Homo sapiens: one gene and its partners. The protein of the gene in region 3 purifies or fractionates together with the protein of the main gene of each other region. This does not show direct contact. Each region holds a gene or a part of one and is shown on either strand. Other genes may lie near its edges.

Region 1 (3,198 bases), on a different chromosome or scaffold from region 3:
AAAGCGCTGTGCCTGTTTGGACATTCTCCAAGGGATGTGGAGGGGATGTGGAGGATGCTGGCAGCCCTCCACTGGCACTGCCCACCCCTCCTACACTGCCTGAACAGTTTTGGGCACTGGCAGGAGGCTGAGGAGCACCAGGAGACCCAGTGCCTCAGGGTGCAGCGGGCTGGTGAGGACCCCCACAGCTTCTACTTCCCTGGACAGTTCGCCTTCTCCAAGGCCCTGCCCCGCAGCTAAGCCAGCACTGGTAGGCACCAGGGGGCTGAGAGCACCGTCTGGATGAGGCCAGCCCTGGGAATGCTGAGGGGCTGGGCTGGGCTTTGGGAGCCTGGGAGGGGACAGGTCAGAAGCCTGGGAGGAAAGCTGGGACTGGGGCTGAAGCAACCTCCCTCACCCCCAAACCTGTTTCCCCTTTTGTCTAGAGATGCGTGGTGCCTCCAGGACCGCTGCGGGTGGTAACCAGTGGAAGACCCCAGCCCCCAGGGAGAGGAACCCGTTCTATCCCCAGCCATGATAATAAAGCTGCTCTCCCAGCTGCCTCTCAGCTCCTTGTGTTGCACGACTTCCTCCTTAGCGTAGCTCAGAGGCGGCCAGAGAGGGCAGGGGGACAGGACCCTTCCTCTGGGACCCCTTCCTGTGGGCAGGGTGAGCAGAGCCTCCTGTGCTCCAGAGCCAGAGGTGCCCCCATGAAATGCCAGGCAGGGATGCAAATGAAAACAGAAGCATTTAATAGATGTGTGGACAAGAACGGGCAGAGAAGGTGCTGCGGGGAGGGGGTAAGTGCAGGAGCAGTCTGGAGAGGCACATTTGCAAGGCAGGGGAGTCCCACTTCCAGGAGTGCTCTGGGCCACTCAGCCTGCCTACTGTCTCCCAACAGCTGAGACGGGAGGCTGGCCCATCCCTACCTTTCTCGCCTGTAGCCTCAGGAGGAAGTAATTCCTTCCACTAAGTTGCAGGCTGGAGCAGCCCAGAGTGGCAGCAGCTGCGGACACAGGCTCACGGATGTGGGAGCCCTTACACCTGCTCACAGCCCTTCAGTCTGTCCTTGCAGCATGTGGAGGGATGGTGGGGAGGGGCTGCTCTCAGGATAGGGATAAAGCAATAGCCCAGTGTGCAGGGCCAGTGACCAGTGTGAAGCAACTAAGACGAGTGTGGGGGCAGAGAGGGGAACTGGGGGCAGCGAGGCCACCTGCCAGGCTGTCCTGGGCCATAGGCCACGTTCAGAAGACGAAGGAAGAGGTGGGGCCCGCAGAGCTGAGTACCTGCTCCGCCTGGGCCAGGCTGTCGCTGGCCTGGCGGTCCAGGTCCCAGCACTCCTGCAGTGTGTCCTGGAACTGCCGGCAGGCCTCCTCCAGGATGGAGCTGCTCCGGCTGGGCCAGGACTCCCAGTAGCCTGGCTCCACCCAGGGCTGGGCCTCGGTGGCTCTGGGGCCTGGACTGGAGCTGGGACGCAAGGAGCTGTCCAGGTCTCGGCACAGCTGGTAGAACTCACTACCACGCCCAATCACACGCTCACCGTCGATGACTTTCAGGCCAGGCAGCAGCTCCCGGACTGCAGCCCAGTAGGAGGGGTTGGCACAGAGCGGGTTGCTGAGCCGGGCCAAAGGGTCTCGGAGCCGCAGGTACTCCAGGCACGGTAGCCCAGCCAGACACTGCAGCTGGCCCGGGGTGGCCAGTAGGTTGCCTGCGGCATTGAGACTCTGCAAGTTCTCACAGGTGGCCAGTGGCTCCAGGCCCGTCAGCCGATTGTTGGAGACATTGAGCACAGCTAGCTGGCGCAAGGAGGCCAGCGGGCCCAGGTGGGTGAGCGCGTTGCCTGATAGGTCCAGCCACTCCAGGCCCAGGCACTCTCCCAGGCAGCCCAGGTCAGCCAGTCCCAAGCCACGCAGCTTCAGTAGCAGGATGGACTCCAGGGAGAACTCGCCTGTGCGTGACTTCAGCAGCTGGGGTGTGATCTGCAGTCCGCCAGCCTCTCCCGGCTTCTCCGCTGGAGGGTCCATGAGATGGAAGTCGGTTGGGATGGCCTGGGCCCTGGCAGGACTGTCACAGGGTTCCACTGGGGGTCAGCTGGTGCTCGCCCTGGCTCTACCCAGGCCAGTGCCAGGAGGCCTGGTTCCGATGCCCTGCTCGAAGCCAGCCAGTCCCTGAGGAGAGACAGTCAGTCAGCAGGCAGCACTTTCTGTGTCTTACGCAGCAGGTGACGGCAGGGAGTCTGACCCTGCTTTTACCATGAAAACCAACAATCTCAGCCAGGCAAGACCTGAAGACCAAGCTGGGACACAGGCCACAAAAGCCATCTGAGTGACAGGGATGGGGTGCAGGCCCAACCCAAGGGGAGCAGCCCAGACTGGCCCTGGCTGGTTAGGGCCATGCTGGATGGATTCAGGCCCAATATTACCAGTTCTTCCTGTCAAATCCAAACTAGGGGCAAAACATTATTTTACTTTTTCCGTAACCACTCACGATCCATCCCTATTAGTTTTGGGGTGTTTTTTAAACCGTTATTTTTGAATAGGCAATAGGTAACCACCATCACCAGTTTCTTTTGTTTTCTTTCTGGGATAATCAATGTATATGCAATGCAAACGAGAGCACATGTGCCTTGTTTGATTCACTCAGTATTACTGCAATTCTTTCTAACAGCAATGAATTCAAACTTGTTTCCAGATTATATGGGTCAGCTGGTACCTCTGGTTGGAGCTGTAGAGCATAAGAAGTTGGCCTTTAGTCCTGAAGGAGAAAACTGAGGTCAAGGTAGTGAAGGGACAGGGAAGGCTGGGGTAAGTGGCCTGGCTAGGTCGCACACCCTTGCTCTCACTTCACTGCCCGCCAAAGCTAGCTCTTTTGCTCTGGACTCAGCTGGACAGATCAATGGAACAGCACTGATATACGTGCCAGACAGCACGGTGCCAGCTGCAAAGACAACATAAATTTCCCAAAGGGCAGGCTGTCTTGGAGGGAGGGAAGGGTGGCTCCAGAAAGCCGGGAGGGGCACATCAAATTGCCAGGGGCTGCAGGACCAGGTGAGTCCAGGTGCCAGCGCATGACTGTGGCACAAAGCAGGGGTGGCCTGGTGGAGGGACCTCAAGATTTAAGCAGTGAGGAAAATAACAGACCTCTTCCAAGCGCAGCTTTCCCAACCTGGCAGACTTTGGCCAGGCCCAGACCCAGGAGTCTCACCCAGGCCGGCGGGGT
Region 2 (4,047 bases), on a different chromosome or scaffold from region 3:
TCAGAATCGCCTATTTTACCCCATTTTGTCTCATGTATCTTTTATTCTATTTCCATATTCTGTTTTCTATATGATGAAATGAAATGCTTTGAGAGTAAGGCATCATACTTCCTTAAACGTAAGATCAGCTTCGATGTGCATTTCCTAAGAATAAGATATTTTCCTTTTCTTTTTTTTTTTTTTTTTTTTTTTGAGATGGAGTCTTGCTCTGTCACCAGGCTGGAGTGCAGTGGTATGATCTCAGCTCACTGCAACCTCCGCCTCCCGGGTTCAAGTGATTCTCCTGCCTCAGCCTCCTGGGTAGCTGGGACTACAGGTGTGCACCACCATGCCCAGCTAATTTTTGTATTTTAATTTTAATTTAATTTAATTTTATTTTTGAAATGGAGTCTTGCTCTGTTGCCCAGGCTGGAGTGTAGTGGTGCTGTCTTGGCTCACTGCAACTTCTGCCTCTTGGGTTCAATCGATTCTCCTGCCTCAGCCTCCCGAGTAGCTGGGACTACCGGTGCGTGCCACCACACCCAGCTAATTTTTTGTATTTTTAGTAGAGTCAGGGTTTCACCATGTTAGCCAGGATGGTCTCCGTCTCCTGACCTCGTGATCTGCCCGCCTCGGCCTCCCAAACTGCTGGGATTACAGGCATGAGCCACTGAGCCCAGCTAGAATAGGAAATTTTCTTGCATAGCCATAGTACAGTCAACTCCAGTAAACTTAACATCAATAGAAACACTTTTATCTTCTTTACCCAACATTTGTATTCCAGTTTTGTCAACTGACCCAATCATCTCTTGTAGCAATTTTTCTGGTCGGTATAGAATCCAATCTAGGACAGGCACTGCATTTAGTTGTCAAGTCTTCAACTGGTGTGTTTTTAAAAGCTCTCTGAGTGGAGGCTATTATCTTAAGTTAAATAACTCAGGAAGAGAAAGTCAAATATCACATGTTCTCACTTGCAAGTGGGAACTAAATAATGTGTACACAGGAACACAGAATGTGGAATAATAGACACTGGAGACTCCAAGGGTGGGAGGCTGCAGGGCGGATGAGGGATCATAAATAGCTCCTGGGTACAATGTATCCTATTCGTGTGATGGTTGCACTAAAAGTCCAGACTTCACTACCACGTATTGTATCCATGTAAAAAGCACATTTGTACCCCCTAAATCTATATAAATTAAAAATAAATACGTATTTTAGAATCTTTTGGATACATTGATATAGTAAACAAATAAATAAGGGCTCTGTAGGTGATTTTAATGGGCACCTTGGGCCTTGGGTCATTGTGTAAATAAATATTTACTACACTACCACATAGTGAGTGCCTACCAGGTGTAAAGTATTATGAATAAAATTAAGGAGCTTATTACTTTAAGGACATACTATCCACAAGTCAACTATAATATCATAGGGATAAGTATCATGAAAGAAATATTAACAAACCTATAGGAGGAAACTATAATTAAATTGAACAAGTTTACTGAGGATCTACTATGTGTCAGACTTTGTACAAACTGCTGGAGAAATGGATGGATAAGTAAATGTAATTAATACACAGTTAAAAATTAATTAACAATTTTTTTTTGGAATGGAGTTTCACTCTTGTTGCCCAGGCTGGAGTGCAATGGCACGATCTCAGCCAACTGCAACCTCCGCCTCTCGGGTTCAAGCGATTCTCCTGCCTCAGCCTGCCGAGTAGCTGGGATTACAGGTATGCACCACCATGCCCAGCTAATTCTTTTCGTATTTTTAGTAGAGATGGGGTTTCTCCATGTTGGTCAGGCTGGTCTCAAACTCCCGACCTCAGGTGATCCACCTGACTCGGCCTCCCAAAGTGCTGGGATTACAGGCGTGAGCCACTGTGCCCGGCCAGTTAACACAGTCTTAATCAGAAAAGTAAGGTTTTTAAAAGGTTTTTTTTTTAGAGGAGGTGGGACTCAAAAGATAAGCAGATTTTACTTTTAGAGAGGAAGACATTTCAGGTGAGGAAACTTCAAGAGGAAAGCTAGGTGAGTGCACAGTGGAGTAAGGAAAGAATCGTACTTCCCTGTGACCTGAGAATTGGGTGCGTAGGGATGTACTAGGAGATTGTGCTGAAGTAGGCTGGATAATGTATGGTGGTACAGTCACTTCGCAAAACAATTTGGCAATTTCTTAAAGAAGTAAAAGTTATCATACAACTTAAGAATTCTGCTCCTAGGTATCTACCCAAGAACACATAAAGACTTGCACGTGAATGTAATCTTCATAGCAGCATTATTCATAAAAGCCAAAAAGTAGAAACTCAAATGTCCATCAGCTGGTGAATGGATAAATAAAACACAGCATACCCATAGAACAGGATAAATAAGTAATAAAAAGGAACGAATTAATGATATGTGTTACAATGTGGATGAATCTTAAAGAATTAGATGGAAAGAATAATTTATTATATGGTTTCATTTAGAGATAATTTAAAGAGATAGGAAGTAGATGAATGGTTGCCTGGGGCTGTTGGTGGGAACAGAAACTGACTACAAATGGCCACAAGGGAAGATTTCTTTGGGGTGATGAAAATGTCCCTAAAACTGGATTATGGTTATGGCTTAATGACTAAAACAATGTTGAACTGAACAATTAAAACAGGTGAATTTTATGGTATGTAAATTATACCTCAATAAAGCTGTAAATATTAAAAAAACTGTTAATCAAAATTAGGCAGAAAGAAAATAGGAAGCACAATCTTAGAAATAAAAAATATAATTATTGAAATTCAAAAAACTTAATAGATGGGAAAAACTCTGGATTGGACAAATTATTTAGAAGACTGGCAAATTGGAAGGCAAGGAATTCACCAGGATGCAACACAAAGACAAAATCTTTTTTTAAAAAAATAACATCTCAGGATATAGATAGTGAGGCTTCCTCACTTACCTAATGGTAGTGCCAGAAAAGATAATGGAGGTAATGGCTAGGAAGCAATATTGCAAGAGAAAATCAGTAATAATTTTCCAGAATTAAAGAAAGCATATGCACCCCTGTAATCCCAGCACTTTGGGAAGCCAAGGCGGGAGGATTGCTTGAGCTCAGGAGTCTGAGATCAGCCTGGGCAACATAGTGAGACCCTGTCTCTACAAAAAATTTTTTAAAAATTAGCTGGGCATGGTGGCTCATGCTTGTAGTCCAGCTTGAGTATGGGAGGTCAAGGTTGTAGTGAGCTTTGATCACACCACTGCACTCCAACCTGGGTGACGTAGTGAGACACTGTCTCAAAGAAAAAAAAAAAAAGTACCTCCTCCTTTTGCAGAGGATAAAGATAAACTAACACCAAGACAGTTCTAGAAAACCTGCTGGACAGTAAAAATAAACAAAACAAATCTGAAATGTTATCAAAGAGAAAAGGCAGCTTATTTATAAGGGAATGAAAATTAGATTGGCAGTAGAATTTTTAACCAGCAACACTTAGTACCAGAAGACAGTGGAGTACTATCATCAGTGTGGTGTGGGAAAATAACTGTTCACTAGAATTTTATATCCAAATAAATCATCATACAACAGTGAGGGCAAAATTAAGACATTTCCAACAATGAATTCCCTCCCATACCAAGGCACCTACAGAAAGAACTATTAAAGGATGGACTTCAGCCAGAAGAAAAGTGAACCCAAAGGGAACACTGTAGATTCAAGAAAAAGAAATAGCAGAAAAATTGATAAAATGTCATAAATTTAATTAACTTTTAACTATAAAAACTATTTTTAAATTTAAGAAGTAAAAACAGATTGAATGCGGTGGCACATGCCTGAGCTTTGGAAGGTTGAGGCGGGAGGATTGCTTGAAGCCAGGAGTTCGAGACCAGCTTGGGCAACATGGTGAGACTCTATTTCTACAAAAAATTTTTGAAAAAGAAAATATTAGCTGGGGGTGGTGGTGTGGACCTGTTCCTAGCTACTTGGGAGTCTGAGGTGGGAGGATTGCTTGAGGCCAGGAGCTTGAGGCTCCAGTCAGCCATGACTGTGCCACTACACTCCAGCCTGGGTAACAGAGCAAGACCCTGTCTCTTAAACAAACGA
Region 3 (4,047 bases):
TGACATGTGCCTGTAATCCCAGCTACTTGGGAGGCTGAGGCAGGAGAATCGCTTAAACCCGGGAGGCGGAAGTTGCAGCAAGCTGAGGTTGCAGTGAGCCAAGATCGCGCCACTGCACTCCAGCCTGAGCGACAAGAGCGAAACTCTGTCTCAGGGAAAAGAAAAAAAAAAGAATGTGAATTTCATTTTTATTTTTATTTATTTTTGAGGAGTCTCACTCTGTTGCCCAGGCTGGAGTGCAGTGGCATAATCTTGGCTCACTGCAACCTCCGCCTCCGGGGTTCAAGTGATTCTCCCACCTCAGCCTCCCAAGTAGTTGGGATTATAGGCAACTGCCACCACGTCCGGCTAATTTTTGTATTTTTAGTAGAGATAGGGTTTCACCATGTTGGCCAGGCTGGTCTCAAACTCCTGGCCTCAGGTGATCTGCCTGCCTTGGCCTCCCAAAGTGCTAGGATTACAGGCATGAGCCACCGTGCCAAGCCAGAAATGTGAATTTCAAATGAAGAGCTTCATACATTTCACTGCCAAGAGCTACAATTTTCATTCTTTAAAGAAAATTTGCAGAAATACCCTCTGCTGCTGTCAGTTGAAAAATGGTGCTGTAAGAGCATTACACACAACTCTTGAGTTTTACTCTACCATTTACTGGGGCCACTTTAAAAAGCCATGAAGGATACATCTGAACTTGACTCCACTCTTCACCTAATCGACATTCTGCTAGCTATATGTCAAAACTTTAGTCTACCTTCTTAAATATTGCCCTCATAGTCTAATCTGGCAAACTTCCTCTTTAGATGTACCTATCTTACCTAACAATAAATATTTATTGAGTACCTATTAGGTATAAGCACTATGCCAGGCACTTGGAGAAAATTTATACTAATAAATTTTCAGGGAGTTTATAATCTAGCAGGAGACATTACACATATACAAATAATAACAATACAAGGCAATTTTTGGTAAGTACCATAAATACCATAGACAACTTTAGGATTTCTGTCATTTGCAACCAAAAAGAGTCCTGACCAATAAAGGGCATGTTTAGAAGACCTTACGGGAACAGGAGAATGTTTATATCTTGGAGAAATGGGCAGGGCTGTTCCAAGTGGACAGGCTGGATAATGGTGCTGAGGTAGAAAGTCTGAGGGTAGCAGTTCAGCATGGATGGAAAGTAAAGTGTGTAACAGAAAAGACAAAAGGGGAAAGGCCAGAGTGGGGCCAAGATAGTGAACACCTGAAATTTCATGTTTAAGGAGTATGCTATCTACCCCAATTCTACTGTATGGGTATTTCCTGCTAATTATATCCAACTCTTCAAGCTCAACCCCCTCCTGACTCATCTCCAGATAAATCCCCAATTGGACCCAACTTTACTTTTCCCAATTCATTTTTTTTTTCTTTTTTTGTGATGAAGTCTCACTGTCGCCCAGGCTGGAGTGCAATGGCACAGTCTCAGCTCACTGCAACCTCTGCCTCCCGGGTTCAAGTGATTCTCCTGCCTCAGCATCCTGAGTAGCTGGGACTACAGGTGTGTGCCACCACACCCGGCTAATTTTTGCATTTTTCTTAGAGACAGGGTTTCACTGTGTTGGTCAGGCTGGTCTTGAACTCCTGACCTCGTTATCCGCCCGTCTCGGCCTCCCAACGTGCTGGGATTACAGGTATAAGCCACTGCATCTGGCCCATTTTTGCTGGATTCTAATAGCTATGAAGATCATAAACCAATAAAAAAACTTCTCTGGTAGAAAATGTTCCACACAATATTTATAGACTTTTTAGAGAGAATATTTCAAAATGCTCTAAAAACACACCTGCTGGAAGGACCTGCTAATATAAAAACATGTTTCCTGGAAAGTTACACCTGCCATTTAGGCTTTGTGTTGACATGTTCATTGCTGTAGCCTACACCTAACACGAGGCCTGGTGAATGGGATGTGCTCAATACCAATACACAGGCTGAATGAATGATATGATCACTAGATACCTGTAAAGGTCTACTATTCCTATCTTTCCCAACTTATCTTCAAAGTCTCCATTTCAAGATTACCTACACAAGAGCACTGATGCAAATATGGATCATTTTGGAAAGTTCTGAACTTCTATGTAACTTACAAACCCAGGGAAACAATATACTTACTTTGTGACTCCATAGTCAATTCCAATTGTTGCCAGGTATTTAGACACGAATCTTTTCTCACAGTATCGCTTTATAATACAGCTCTAAAAAGGTAAAAAATACAGGCATTTAGTAAATACATAGTGAGAACACATACAGAATAAGTATATTTCTTCATTATGGTTCCTCCATTCATCACTATGAAAAAGCATTTTCAAAAGACAAAAGTGGCGGGGCGCGGTGGCTCACGCCTGTCATCTCAGCACTTTCAGAGGCCAAGGCGGGTGGATCACCTGAGGTCAGGAGTTCAAGATTAGCCTGGCCAACATGGCGAAACCCCGTCTCTACAAAAATACAAAAATCAGCCGGGCATGGTGGCAGGCATCTGTAATCCCAGCTACTCGGGAAGCTGAGGCAGGAGAATTGTGTAAACCCGGGAGGCGGAGGTTGCAGTGAGCTGAGATTGCTGCCATTGCACTCCAGCCTGGGTGGTAAGAGTGAACGCTTGTCTAAAAAAAAAAAAAAGACAAAACTATAAAATAACTGAAACAAGTGTTAAAAGATTTTAAGAAAAATTATTTTTAAATTCTTCCCTTATTACTAAATATGCATATGTTTTCAGTTGAGTTCTCAATCCTGTGCTCTTTTCTTCTGAAGATGTCTTCTATTCTTATGCTTTCAACGATACCACCAAAATATCTGTCTAGCCTTGACCTCACTGCCAAGACCAGATCCACATCTCTAAATATCTATTAGATTAATTCCTTTTTTTTTTTTTTTTTGAGCCTAGGAGGAGAGGCTGCAGTGAGCCACGATGATGCCACTGCACTCCAGCCTGGGTGGCAGAGGGAGACCCTGTCTCAAAAAGAGAAAAAAAATTTCCTGTTAAATCAATTGAATTGGGTTTGTCCTACTTGCAGTAAAAAGTACTCACTTCACAGAGTATTGTACATACTTCTAGAGTTTGCTTTTCTCTCTTAACAATAATAAATTATGGTTCCCAAGTTAACTTTAAAATAGCTCTACTCACTTTTTTATGGTTACACAATAGTCTGTGATATGCAAATATTCCCTCCATTTCATTGCTTGCTAGTTACTTTGTCATTTGTTTTAATTTGCTGTTTGAGTCAATGATTATTTACTAAGGCATTCCTTAATTTTTAACTTTAAAATGCTTTACCTGTATATCATCCTATATTTTCCAAATCCTTTAAAATGAGTATGTGTTACTTTTACAACTAAGGCAAAATAATAAGTTTTTTTAAAAGTTACACTTAAATCTTTTATCCATCTAGAATTTATTTATTTATTTATTTATTTATTATTATTATTTTTTTTGTAGAGACGGGGTTTCACCATGTTGGCCAGGATGGTCTCGATCTGACCCCGTGAACCGCCCGCCTCGGTCTCCCAAAGTGCTGAGATTACAGGCGTGAGCCACTGTGTCCGGCCTAGAATTTATTTTTGAGAAAGGAATGTAATAGGAATCCAACCTACTCTCAAATAGTAGACAGTTGTTACAACAATATTTACTAAATGGTCTCTATTTTCCCATAATTTTACTACATTTGTGTAAATTGAATTTCCTTACGTATCTGGGTTTATTACTGGACTCTACTCTGTTCCACTGATGTCTCCATATTTCCTTCCCAATACCAATGGGAAAAGTTTGGTAGCTTAAAAAAAATTTTTTTTTAAATTAAACAATCATTTTATTGCTTGAGTACATAGACAAATTTATATGACCAGGACAGAGGCTGTAGATTACTCACTTCCAACTGGGAGGGAGGATTTGCTTGGTCTTACAATATTGAGCCAAAGGGTGACTCTACCTCTCTATCAGAATCAGACAGAATTTACCATCCTTATCCTTTCTGTTCATCTCAAGATGCTTTTGAACAATAACTACTTCTTAATTAAATGGTAGA
Region 4 (2,676 bases), on a different chromosome or scaffold from region 3:
GGTGAGGAAGTCGGCACCGGGCAGCGGGTCCCGTTTGGGGCTCACTGGCTCAGAGGCAAATTCTAACCACCTTATCAGGTATGATGGCTGCGCAGACACCCCTCCCCAACCCTCCCGATGCTGACCTGCCGAAGGGACAAGGAAAGGGTGCACAACCGTGCCTGGGCTTCTCTGCTGGTGGCCTTGCAAAACCCCAGCAAGGCAGGGGAGCGCCCGAAGGAAAACAGAGCTGGTTCTTAGAGTATTGTGATTGCATTTTTTCTGATAAAGATAGCACACTGCTTGTCATAAGCTGTTTCCCTTGGTTTCTGTGTTTCTTTTCTAATCAAATTACCCCAGTTGACACACATTTAAGCAAATAGTTTCATTTCAGGTCACGGGGACTTAGCCCTGCAATCAAGGAACTGAATGAAATTCCTGGCAAAATACAGTAATTAGAAACACAATGAAAGCAGAATTGAAATGTCCCAGCCTCCCCACAACACCAAAAGGAAGTCTGGTTAATTTCCAAATTATATTTAGGATCAACAGGCAAGGGGTTCTTTTTCATACGGGCAGAGAAATTAGGACCAGACATCATTACAATAACCACACAAGACTAGGAATGTAATTATAAAATAAACCATACCCTAGCAAGCAAATTATTTTAATGTGTTTCAAGAATTGAATACTCTGTATGGAATTAAAAACAAAGAGAAAAAAGCAACGTGCAGAAAATTAATTAAAAAGAGTTAAGACACAGAAACTTCGAAATGTCATAAAATTACAAATACAAAAGCAACAAATTAAAAAACATACACGATTGCAGATTTCAGTAACATCAGTAGCCAGAACATACCCAATGAATCACTTAATCATCAAATATCTCGCTGATTTTGAAAGGGGGCTAGTGGTTGATGATTTAACCTCAATCAATCCAAAGGACATGACTCTTTCCTTACATTACAAGCAATCTGTAAAGATGGCTTTAAGTACCTTTGAAAAGGTGGAGTGTCCTTTCTCAAAGGAAACAGACAAGGAAGGGGTTATCCGCTCTGCCCCCCCACTACCGAAATGTGTACATTCATTCAACTCTGGTAACTAAGGCAACCAAAGGACAATTTCTTTTCTTTTTTTTTTTTTTTTTTGAGACAGTCTTACTCGGTCACCCAGGCTGGAGTGCAGTGGCGCAACCTCGGCTCACTGCAACCTCTGCCTCCTGGGTTCAAGCGATTCTCCTGCCTCAGCCTCCGGAAGAGCTGAGATTACAGGCGACCACGACTGCCTAATTTTTGTATTTTAGTAGAGACGGGGTTTCACCATGTTGGTCAGGGTGGTCTCAAACTCTTGACCTCAGGTGATCCGTCCCCCTTGGCCTCCCAGAGTGCTGGGAGTACAGGCGTGAGCCACTGCGCCCGGCCCCAAAGGACAATTTCTTGAGACCCCCACACACCTTCAGAACCACACATTCTGTTCATGTTAAAAACAAGAAATTAACAACCTCTAAAGCTAAGGACAATGATTCTGTAAAGTGCAAGAATGGTTCATTGTTTCCGCTTTTGTGGATTTCATGTTAAGAATACTTTAAAAGAAAGGGTGGGCGGGAGTAAACCAGGACCCCAGTCATATATTTGATCAAGAAATGACCCGTATGGCAAAGGTGAGACGTGGACCAGCCCTCAGGTGTCTCCAACTCTGTGCACACCACTGAGGTAGGAGCTCTAGAAGAAACGCAGACCCTCTCAGGGGGGTTAAGGTTTCCTCTTGGCAAATGAGCTGGGGGCCTGAGACAGTCATACCCACGGGCTGCATGCAACTTTGCATGCAACTTCACGAAATTCTAGAGCTGTATCACATCAGCGATGGAGAAGGGCAAGATCCAAGACAAAGCCACATGAGGCGAGGTCCTGGTGCTGCCATTTGTTGTCCAGCACAAATCAAGGGGCCGGAGGAAAGGGATGAGGTGGAAAACCCCGGCAGGCATTCTACAAAACAGTTATTAGCAAATTGTATCAAAAAGTATCAAAACATTTCAAAAAACTCTAAAAACTGCCAGGCTTGGCAGATGCGCAGGACAGGGTCTCCAAGTGCCCGTGGCGCTGCCCTATACTCCAGGCATTTATCCTAGAGGCCAGGATGCCACCCCCTCCCCTCCCCTCCTGGGCACTCAGAATCCACGGAGACACCAGGAGGTCTAAACCTCATCTGCAGCTGCCCCTCCAGGTTTGGGACCAGTGGACGGGGTTCCAACCACGGGCTCTGACAGCCACAAGGCCCATGAGATGCTGCTGCACCATGGAGGACCAGGGTGAAGGATGAAGGTCAGTGACTCTACAGGGGGTGGTGGGGGGTGTGGCAGGGGTCCCCTCACTTCCCACATTGCTGCAAGTCACTGAACGATCACTTGGCTTAGGGGCCGAGGTACACTGAACCACAGGTGAACACAACTGAGCTCACAAAGTAGGCCCCTGGACCTCAGAGGATGGACCCCACTTCCCCTCAGCATCTGGATGCCCACCTCAAAGGTGAACACCCCTTAGGGTGAGTTTCTGGGTCTCCATGAAGTCACCTTATCATGAGTGAGGGCACTCAATATAAATACACACGTGTGGTCCTGCTCAGAGCCAGGTCTGAAGTCCCACTTGATAGCCTCAATAAAATGGCAGAACAATAAAAATACCAATTGCGTGCTAACCA
Region 5 (4,047 bases), on a different chromosome or scaffold from region 3:
TGAAATAACTAGATCTACCAGTATCAACACGTAACAGTTACACAAATAAAAACAAATGATTTTAGGGCTGGGCACAGTGGCTCACACCTGTAATCCCAGCACTTTGGGAGGCCGAGGTAGGTAGATCACTTAAGGTCAGGAGTTTAAGACCAGCCTGGCCAACATGGTGAAACCCCATCTCTACTAAAAATACAAAAAAAATTAGCCGGGTATGGTGGCGGGTGCCTATAATCCCAGCCACTCGGGAGGCTGAGGTGGGAGAACTGATTGAACCCGGGAGGCGGAGGTTACGGTGAGCTGAGATGGTGCCACTGCACTCTAGCCTGGGTGACAGAGAGAGACTGTCTCAAAAAAATTAAAAAAAAAAAAAAAAGATTTTAGAAGTTATAAAACATTGGACACACGTGTGTTAACCAAGAAAAATAAAATAAAACCAAAATAACAATGGTGAGGACATGCAGGCTCCTGTTAAGAGATGCCAGCGGGGATCAAAAGCAAAGCCCTGAAGCCAGTCTTTATCCAAAAGAAAGTCAGGTAATAGGTATCAAAATAGTCCTGGTCTTTGGGTCATAGGACTAGGAAGTTAGTTCCTCCTGAGTGAAGTAAACATATATTTTAAAAACTCACAGAAAGGGACGCCTCCTGAGGGCCTCAAATCTAAGCTGGACAAAGTGCCCACTTAGATGTGAATACCCCTTTAGCAGTCCAACAGGGGCCTTCAGACTGTGAGATGCAGGCACAGCAGAGCCACCCAGAAGCCAGGCTCTTCAATTAAGGACAGTGGCATTATCAGCAAAGCACCCAAGCATGCCTCTGTGGACATCTGTCCTATTGACGTTCAATGAAGTATGCAGGGTCCTCCCAGACCACTAACTAATTTCTGTCTCAGGGGTCACATTTGAGCAGCCAGAGTCTCAAGCCACAGAGAGAAAGATGGAGCAGTCCTCAGATCAGGCCAGAGGCTGGGCCACCTTAGGGGAGCGGGAGCACCCACAGGTGAGGTTACCTCACAGACGCCACATCGCCGGCGCTTAAAGGCGTTCTCCTTGTCTTCTCTGTCATCCTTTTCAATTTGCTCTGCGAAGAAAGTATCGAAGATCTGGTAGACCAGCTTGGTGGTGGTGGCTTTCGTGGGTCCCCTGTCCTTCTCCCTGGTAGAATGCCTGATGGTCTGCCGCCTCGCCTGGGCTCGCCTACGGGAGAGGTTCCAGCATCTCAGAGGACTGGGACAGAGGATGTGGGCCATGCTCTACCCTCCCCGGTCTCCAGTCTTCACTCTGGTCCCTGCCGCATCCTTACCTCTGTCCCAGCGTGACCCCAGCCAGCTTGATCAGGTCCCGCATGCAGGGTGTCAGGAAGATGGGCTGCTCATCACTGTCCCCGGCCTCGTCATAACTCTCCACCTGCTCCACCACAAACTGCGCGTGTCGCAGGAGGGAGTCCTCTGTGAAGCGGTTCAAGTTGAGGCCAGAAGGAGGAACCGTGGTCTTGAAAGAGAACAGGTTTCTCTCATGCTTAAGCCAAACTGGCCTAAATCCAACTGAAGAACAGTGTCTGCTGGTTCTGAAGGCAAGTTTCCAGTGGGAATCCCGGATGCTGAGGACCCTCGATCTCTTACCTCGATCTTGTTGATCAGGTCCTCATAGGTCGAGTCGGAATTGCTCTGCAGGAACTCCACCACAATCTTGCTGATGTAGATCTTCTCCTGCATCAGCCCAAATATGGGCGCATACTCGGGACTGGGATCCATCAGAATGTATTCGGCAAATGCTGGGGTGAACAGAGGAGGTGTGGAAAAGGGGCTGGAATCTGATGGCGCCTACAGTGGCCACAGGGCATGGAGGAGTCTACCAAACTCACCCAACAGTCTAAAAGTCATCCCGTACCCAAATGTCAGAAACATAGGGCACAACACATCATAGCTGGCTTGTTCTGAAGAAGCCTGTCTGAGCCAGCCAGAGAGCGAAGACTAGCTGAGTAGGCCTTCATTGAGCTCATCTCTGGTGTTTGGAATTCAGTCTGGGTTTGGGTTGCAAGAATAAGACCTGCTCTTTTTTTTTTTTCAGGGGAGGACAGAGTCTTGCTCCGTCACCCAGGCTGGAGGGCAGTGGCGTGATCTCGGCTCACTGCAACCTCTGTCTGCTGGGTTCACGTGATTCTCCTGCCATAGCCTCCCAAGTAGCTGGGATTACAGGTATGCACCACCATGCGTGGCTAATTTTTGTATTTTTGGTAGAGAGGGGGTTTCACCATGTTGGCCAGGCTAGGCTGGTCTCGAATTCCTGGCCTCAAATGATCCCCCCAACTCGGCCTCCCAAAGTGCTGGGATTACAGGTGTGAGCCACCATATCCGGCCAAGACCTGCTCTTACAACTGGAGAGTCAGTTCCAGAGCCAGTCATAACTAACACAAGAGGCTACCCCAACTGAACCTGCTAAGGTTCCCAGTCACATGGCCTTCTGCAAGCCTGCTGAGAATTCCCACCAGAGCCCCGTCAGCCCCCAGGAAGGAGAACATGAAGGCCCCTTTCAGACCCCGGCCAGCCTATGATGGGCCACACACTTACAGGTGCTGAAGCCGATGAGGGCCTTTTCACCTCCATCAAAGCCAGTGATCCACCATTCATTTATGGGGCCAAGATTTTTGCCATTAACACCACCTAGAGCAGAAAAAGGAAATGGACTAAAGGCTCTGACTCACATCCCAAACCCAGGAGGCGCTCTAAGCGCCCACTCAGCAGACATCCCATCAGCCAGGTCGGGTGCTCCTCAGTCATCACAATGACTTGGCCTACAGCTGCTCCTGGCACAAAGTCTCACACCCTAACTTTAAGAGGCAGCAGCAACTCCAGCTGACTATTGCTTCATAAGTATGTTTTTTATTTATACATATATATAAGTATATATGTATACTATATATATATGCTATATATTTTTTTTTAATAGAGGCAGGCTCTTGCTATGTTGTCCAGGCTCGTCTCAAACTCCCGGGCTCAAGTGATCCTCTGGCCTCAGACCCCCAAAGTGCTAGGATTACAGATGTGAGCCACCCTGCCTGGCTGTTTTTAAAGTGTGCCCCAAACATAATCCCGGACTATTCCTTACCTTCAAGAGATGGGTCATCATCATAGATTGGTTTTGCTGAACCAGAAAAGAAGAGTTCGATATTCTTCTCGATGAGGCCGGTGTCGATGGGACACAGGTGACCGTGCTTACAGTACACACTAGACAGGAAACAAAGCACATGCTTACCAGCTAAGCCGTGAAGGCGGGTCTTCGTGCAGACTTCAGATCAGGCACGAGGCAATGAGAGAATGTACAAGTCTGACACTCTTTTTTTGTTTGTTTTTGAGACAGAGTCTTGCTCTATCCCTCAGGCTGGAGCGCGATGGCATAATCTTGGCTCACTGCAGCCTCCACCTCCCGGGTTCAAGTAATTCTCCTGCCTCAGCCTCCCGAGTAGCTGGGATTACAGGCCTGAACCACCATGCCCGGCTAATTGTTGTATTTTTAGTAGGGACGGGGTTTCACTATGTGTAGCAGGCTGGTCTCAAACTCTTTATCTCCAGTGATCTACCCACCTCAGCCTCCCAAAGTGCTGGGATTACAGGCTGAACCACCATGCCTGGCCCCGACACTCATTTTTTGGTTGCGGGAACACTGGATTAAGACAGCGTTCTATCACCCAGAGTTTCTACCTTATTCTCCCACCTAAGCATCAAGTGTATGTGTGTCTGCAACAGCAACACCAAAAGATCAGTCAGACTTACAGTGCGGGAAATACCGGTTTCTAGAACACCTTCTACTATGCAGTGCAGCCACTAGCTCTATTCAGCTGCAGAACATTTCTGTCACTCAAATGTTAATAAAGCCTCATTCCCATCAAGTAGCAGTCACTCTCCAGTCTCCTCCCAACCGGCCCTCAGCCCCCAGCCCCCGGCAACCACCAATCTGCTTTCTATACCTATGAATTCACCTATTCAAGATACCTCATATGGTTAATTTTATATTATACGAGTTAGACCTCAATTTAGAAAATAAAGCAGGT

The links.
Region 1: the proteins of DNAJC27 (region 3) and LRRC61 purify together in Homo sapiens (affinity purification with mass spectrometry; one large-scale study listed by BioGRID and IntAct). This does not show direct contact.
Region 2: the proteins of DNAJC27 (region 3) and FAM184B purify together in Homo sapiens (affinity purification with mass spectrometry, with the first as the bait; one large-scale study listed by BioGRID). This does not show direct contact.
Region 4: the proteins of DNAJC27 (region 3) and KLHL36 purify together in Homo sapiens (affinity purification with mass spectrometry; one large-scale study listed by BioGRID and IntAct). This does not show direct contact.
Region 5: the proteins of DNAJC27 (region 3) and DNMT1 purify together in Homo sapiens (affinity purification with mass spectrometry, with the first as the bait; one large-scale study listed by BioGRID). This does not show direct contact.

What each region holds. Positions count from the first base shown.
Region 1 is NC_000007.14:150,335,667-150,338,864, reverse strand, and holds the end of LRRC61 (leucine-rich repeat-containing protein 61), read right to left. Parts: intron 2,148-3,198; 5' UTR 2,004-2,147; coding exon 1,224-2,003; 3' UTR 709-1,223; downstream 1-708. Other genes in the region: RARRES2 (retinoic acid receptor responder protein 2 precursor), read left to right, coding at 124-240.
Region 2 is NC_000004.12:17,774,824-17,778,870, forward strand, and holds part of FAM184B (protein FAM184B), read right to left. Parts: intron 1-4,047.
Region 3 is NC_000002.12:24,965,071-24,969,117, forward strand, and holds part of DNAJC27 (dnaJ homolog subfamily C member 27), read right to left. Parts: exon of another isoform or gene 3,813-4,047; intron 2,224-3,812; coding exon 2,141-2,223; intron 1-2,140. UniProt on the Homo sapiens protein: GTPase which can activate the MEK/ERK pathway and induce cell transformation when overexpressed. May act as a nuclear scaffold for MAPK1, probably by association with MAPK1 nuclear export signal leading to enhanced ERK1/ERK2 signaling.
Region 4 is NC_000016.10:84,665,511-84,668,186, reverse strand, and holds the end of KLHL36 (kelch-like protein 36), read right to left. Parts: 3' UTR 501-2,676; downstream 1-500.
Region 5 is NC_000019.10:10,153,287-10,157,333, forward strand, and holds part of DNMT1 (DNA (cytosine-5)-methyltransferase 1), read right to left. Parts: intron 3,224-4,047; coding exon 3,105-3,223; intron 2,660-3,104; coding exon 2,567-2,659; intron 1,771-2,566; coding exon 1,619-1,770; intron 1,488-1,618; coding exon 1,300-1,487; intron 1,194-1,299; coding exon 1,007-1,193; intron 1-1,006. UniProt on the Homo sapiens protein: Methylates CpG residues. Preferentially methylates hemimethylated DNA. Associates with DNA replication sites in S phase maintaining the methylation pattern in the newly synthesized strand, that is essential for epigenetic inheritance.